Linked DNA regions of Homo sapiens: region 1 is linked to region 2. Evidence: fine-mapped expression QTL. Tissue or cell type: whole blood. Region 2 holds a variant in brackets; the other region holds the start of a gene. All regions are shown on one strand. Distances are between the middles of the regions.

Evidence for each region. PIP is the estimated chance that this variant, and not a neighbour inherited with it, causes the effect.
Region 1: it holds the start of MYO7A, and the variant in region 2 is fine-mapped to the expression of MYO7A in whole blood (INTERVAL, PIP 0.94).

The regions. Positions count from the first base shown.
Region 1 is chr11:77,126,973-77,129,725 of GRCh38, forward strand. It overlaps MYO7A (myosin VIIA), which reads left to right and starts at 1,274. Exons shown (of 49, transcript NM_000260.4): 1 at 1,274-1,517. RefSeq lists enhancers at 1-682, 683-1,406, 2,129-2,753.
Region 2 is chr11:77,180,603-77,183,355 of GRCh38, forward strand. It overlaps MYO7A (myosin VIIA), which reads left to right. Exons shown (of 49, transcript NM_000260.4): 23 at 778-987; 24 at 1,349-1,552; 25 at 1,822-1,998; 26 at 2,466-2,555. Among named protein-coding and RNA genes, the nearest start is that of MYO7A, 54 kb to the left of the region's middle. RefSeq lists an enhancer at 2,011-2,511. The variant T/G (reference allele first, on the strand shown) is at 1,192.

The sequences.
Region 1 (2,753 bases), 54 kb before region 2:
CGGGGTCTCATTTCCCCATCCGTGTAGGGCTGACGCCACTGGCCCCGCCCAGCCTGGGAGGATGGAGAGGGGGGACTTGAGGAGTGGCCAGTACTGGGTTTCGGCAGCAGGTGCAAATCCCAGGTGGGGACTGTGTTCCAGGGACTCCTGGACTCCTGTTAGGCCAGCAGGCTAAGGGGCAGACGGCATCCTGGGGTCTTCCTGGGACAGGGTCGTCGGGTCTGAGGGGACCCAGGCCCTAGCAGAAGCTGACTCCTGTCACGGTCACTTCCCAGCGGTGCTCAGCCCGCCTGACGGAAGCAGCTGGGCAGTGGGGCCTGTGACCAGCAGGCGGCGCTGGCGAGCTATAGCGCCCCTTTGGGCCCCCACCCCACCTTCTGGGCAGCTTCCCTGCAGACACCCCAGTTATGGGGGCTAGGGACCCAAAAGAGACATCCTTCTGCCACCCAGAGCTGCCCTGGCGAGGTGCACTATGGGGCCGCCGACAGCTGCGTGGCTGCCGAGGGCGGAAAGGAGAAACTGTCATGTCCCGATAGGGCCGCGCGAGGTCTCCATCCTCGACAACGCTAATAACAAAGACGTGTGCTCCTCTTTGCTTGGTTCCCCCCACTCCTTTAAATCACAGATTTCACTTCAGTTTATCTGTGTCGCTGTCACACGTGGGGTGGCTCCCAGTCAGCTGGTTTGGCAAAGTTTCTGGATGATTACGGAATAACATGTGTCCCCAACCCGCAGAGCAGGTTGTGGGGGCAATGTTGCATTGACCAGCGTCAGAGAACACACATCAGAGGCAAGGGTGGGTGTGCAGGAGGGAGAAGGCGCAGAAGGCAGGGCTTTAGCTCAGCACTCTCCCTCCTGCCATGCTCTGCCTGACCGTTCCCTCTCTGAGTCCCAAACAGCCAGGTAGAGGAGGAAGAAATGGGGCTGAGACCCCAGCACATCAGTGATTAAGTCAGGATCAGGTGCGGTTTCCTGCTCAGGTGCTGAGACAGCAGGCGGTGTCCTGCAAACAACAGGAGGCACCTGAAGCTAGCCTGGGGGGCCCACGCCCAGGTGCGGTGCATTCAGCAGCACAGCCAGAGACAGACCCCAATGACCCCGCCTCCCTGTCGGCAGCCAGTGCTCTGCACAGAGCCCTGAGCAGCCTCTGGACATTAGTCCCAGCCCCAGCACGGCCCGTCCCCCACGCTGATGTCACCGCACCCAGACCTTGGAGGCCCCCTCCGGCTCCGCCTCCTGGGAGAAGGCTCTGGAGTGAGGAGGGGAGGGCAGCAGTGCTGGCTGGACAGCTGCTCTGGGCAGGAGAGAGAGGGAGAGACAAGAGACACACACAGAGAGACGGCGAGGAAGGGAAAGACCCAGAGGGACGCCTAGAACGAGACTTGGAGCCAGACAGAGGAAGAGGGGACGTGTGTTTGCAGACTGGCTGGGCCCGTGACCCAGCTTCCTGAGTCCTCCGTGCAGGTGGCAGCTGTACCAGGCTGGCAGGTCACTGAGAGTGGGCAGCTGGGCCCCAGGTAAGGATGGGCTGCCCACTGTCCTGGGCATTGGGAGGGGTTTGGATGTGGAGGAGTCATGGACTTGAGCTACCTCTAGAGCCTCTGCCCCACAGCCACTTGCTCCTGGGACTGGGCTTCCTGCCACCCTTGAGGGCTCAGCCACCACAGCCACTGAATGAAACTGTCCCGAGCCTGGGAAGATGGATGTGTGTCCCCTGGAGGAGGGAAGAGCCAAGGAGCATGTTGTCCATCGAATCTTCTCTGAGCTGGGGCTGGGGTTAGTGGCATCCTGGGGCCAGGGGAATAGACATGCTGTGGTGGCAGAGAGAAGAGTCCGTTCTCTCTGTCTCCTTTGCTTTCTCTCTGACACTCTTTATCTCCGTTTTTGGATAAGTCACTTCCTTCCTCTATGCCCCAAATATCCCATCTGTGAAATGGGAGTATGAAGCCCCAACAGCCAGGGTTGTAGTGGGGAAGAGGTAAAATCAGGTATAGACATAGAAATACAAATACAGTCTATGCCCCCTGTTGTCAGTTGGAAAAGAAATTAACTTGAAGGTGGTCTAGTTCTCATTTTTAGAAATGAAATGTCTGTCTGGTCATTTTAAAATGTGGCCCTTAAATTTCACGCCCTCACCACTCTCCCCCATCCCTTGGAGCCCCATGTCTCTAGTGAAAGCACTGGCTCTGCCCCCAGCCCTCATGGCTCATGCTGGCATAGGGCGCCTGCTCCACAGCCTGGGCACCATCTTCAGACAAGTGCCCGGTGGCAACTGCCTGCTGGCCCTGTTGAATCCACATCTCCACCAGGCATCCAGACTAGTTCAGGTCTCTGGAAGGACTGTGGGTTTGCTGTGTCCCAGAGCTCCAGGGCAGGGGTCAGGGCTCGGATGTCGGGCAGTGTCATGGGCAGAGGATCGAATGCCCCGGCGGCTCTGAATGGGCCCTTGTGAAAAATTGATGCGCATTCTAGGAGACAGGTTGGGAGCCAGAGGGGCCTCATACCAGGGTCTGTAGGCTGGGGCTGCCTTTTAAGCTCCTTCCTGAGGCCGTCTCTGGGTCTGGCCCTGTGCTGGACAAGGCTGGAGACAAGGCAATGTCTCAGACCCTCTCCCATTGGCCACATCCTGCCCTGGATCAACTCGCCAACTTTGGGGGCAGAGGTGGGACTGACCCTTACCCTGACAACATAATGCATATAGTCAAAATGGGATAAAGGGGAATATAGAGGCTCTTGGCAGCTTGGGAGTGGTC
Region 2 (2,753 bases):
CTAGACCCACTCAGCCAGCATTGCCTGAGCTCTCGCTGGGCACCTGGTCCTGTGCCATGCAAAAGGATGAAGGGCTGTGGTGGCTCCAGAGGAAGAGGCCCAGGCCCTCAGCAGCCCCTTTCTAGTTGTTGAGATAACACCCTGGTAAAAGCACAAGCCAGCTGACGGCACGAGGGTGCTACACTGCCCAATAGAGAGCCACCAGCCACAGTGGCAACTGAACACTTGCAGTGTGGCCTGTCCGAATGACACAGTGCTTTAAGTGTGAAATACTAGATTTTGAAGATTTGGTGGGGGAAAAATGAATATAAAATATCTCAGTATTATTTTTATAATATGGATTACATGCTAAGTTAATATTTGGGAAATATTGAGTTAAATATACTGCTAAGACTAATCCCACCTATTCCTTTTTGCTTTTTAAAACGTGGCTACTATATGGGTGGCTCACATTGTATTCCTATTGGGCAACACTGGTCTAGAGCCTCAAGCCAATGGCCGTGGGATGTCTGGGTTGGTGTGGTCCCCATGGAGCAGGCTCCTGGAGGAGGTGGCTCCCTGAGAGCCCTGAAGGACGGGCAGGATTGTTATTTGGCTTGTTGAGAGGCCTCTGAGTGGTCCAGAGGTGGGGAAGTCAGAGGCTCCATTCTTCCCAGCGGTCAGGAGGTGGGGACTGAGGCCCTGGCTGCTGCAGGGGCTCCCCAGGGAGAGCTTGTTCCCTGAGGCTGTGGCACCGGGGGCTGACCCCGTGTCTTCTGTGTCACCCCAATTGCCCAGGAGCGCCTGGCCCAGCTGGCTCGTGAGGACGCTGAGCGGGAGCTGAAGGAGAAGGAGGCCGCTCGGCGGAAGAAGGAGCTCCTGGAGCAGATGGAAAGGGCCCGCCATGAGCCTGTCAATCACTCAGACATGGTGGACAAGATGTTTGGCTTCCTGGGGACTTCAGGTGGCCTGCCAGGCCAGGAGGGCCAGGCACCTAGTGGCTTTGAGGTACCAGGCTAGGGACAGGGGCTCCAGAGGCCCACACACACCGCTTGTGTTGATCCTCCCTCCTTCTGTGCCCTTGGCCTTAAAGCCCACCCAGTCCCTCTGAACAGTGGGGAGCAGAGATGAACTGGGTCCGGGCTGCAGGTCCCAGGTCCTGTCCCTCTCCAACGCCCTTCTCAAGTTTTTTTTTTTGTTTTTTTTTTTTTT[T/G]TTTTTTTTGAGATGGGGTCGTACCCTGTTGCTCAGGCTGGAGTGCAGTAGCGTGATCACAGCTCACTGCAGCCTTGAACTTCTGGGCTCAGGCGATCCTCCCACCTGAGCTTCCTGAGTAGCTGGGACTCCAGGGCATACCTCTTGTCTCCTTCAGGACCTGGAGCGAGGGCGGAGGGAGATGGTGGAGGAGGACCTGGATGCAGCCCTGCCCCTGCCTGACGAGGATGAGGAGGACCTCTCTGAGTATAAATTTGCCAAGTTCGCGGCCACCTACTTCCAGGGGACAACCACGCACTCCTACACCCGGCGGCCACTCAAACAGCCACTGCTCTACCATGACGACGAGGGTGACCAGCTGGTAAGGCCTGCCTGTCACTAGGTCACTGCTGGGTGGGGCCAGGGCTGGGGCTATGGACTCTGCTGCTGGTGGTGGCCGTAGGTGATGAGGGTGGTGGGTCCCTGGGGGCCAGGGACCAGGTCTGACTATAGTCTTCACTGCGGTGCCCAGCCTGAGGGCTGACCATGCGGGAGGGGGTGTCTCCAGCCCACTCCCCAAACCGCCAGGTCATTTTGACAGCTTTAGCAATGTCCTCCGCTCTGGCCTCTGACATGCGCGCTCTGCCCCAGGCAGCCCTGGCGGTCTGGATCACCATCCTCCGCTTCATGGGGGACCTCCCTGAGCCCAAGTACCACACAGCCATGAGTGATGGCAGTGAGAAGATCCCTGTGATGACCAAGATTTATGAGACCCTGGGCAAGAAGACGTACAAGAGGGAGCTGCAGGCCCTGCAGGGCGAGGGCGAGGTGAGGCCAAGGTGCCCTCTGGATGATGTCCCTCCCAGGCCGACAAGGAGGGCCGCTGGCATCACCAGCCTTGGGCTCCTCTGCAGAAAAAGGATCCTATAATTCATCTCTGCCTCACCGACCCCTGCCTGCCACCCTCCTTTGTCTACTTGTGGGAACAAATGTGTGCAACTTTTATAAACTGTAAAGTGCTGACCATAACTGAGGGGCCTCATGGCAGAGCAGACAGGGGCTTTGCAGTTGGAGCCAGCTCCCGTACTATGTTTTTCTGAGTCTCAGTTTTCCTGACTGCCAGTTGGCTAGTGGGGGTGCAAGGGTAGGGGTGAGCAGGTGGACGGTGGCAGTGTGGGGGACACCCTGTAAGCTTCACGTGGAAGCGAGACGGTTCCCCGCAAAGTCTTGCTGTCGGGGGTCTCGACATTGCTTTCTGCTCAGCCACTTGACCCTGATCCCTGCTGGTCCTGCAGGCCCAGCTCCCCGAGGGCCAGAAGAAGAGCAGTGTGAGGCACAAGCTGGTGCATTTGACTCTGAAAAAGAAGTCCAAGCTCACAGAGGAGGTGAGGGCAGACGCTGGGGGTCTGGCAGCCCAGGGGTGGCTGCCTTAGGTGGCCTAGGCTGGAGCACAGCTGAGCTGGGGGCCCACGGAAGCAGGAGCAGGAGTGGACACTGTCTGTCCTCAGGGGTCTTGGCTGGCCAGGGACAGGACAACATGAGTGGGTTGGTGGGCGATCAGGCAGACAGGAGTGTCTGAAGAG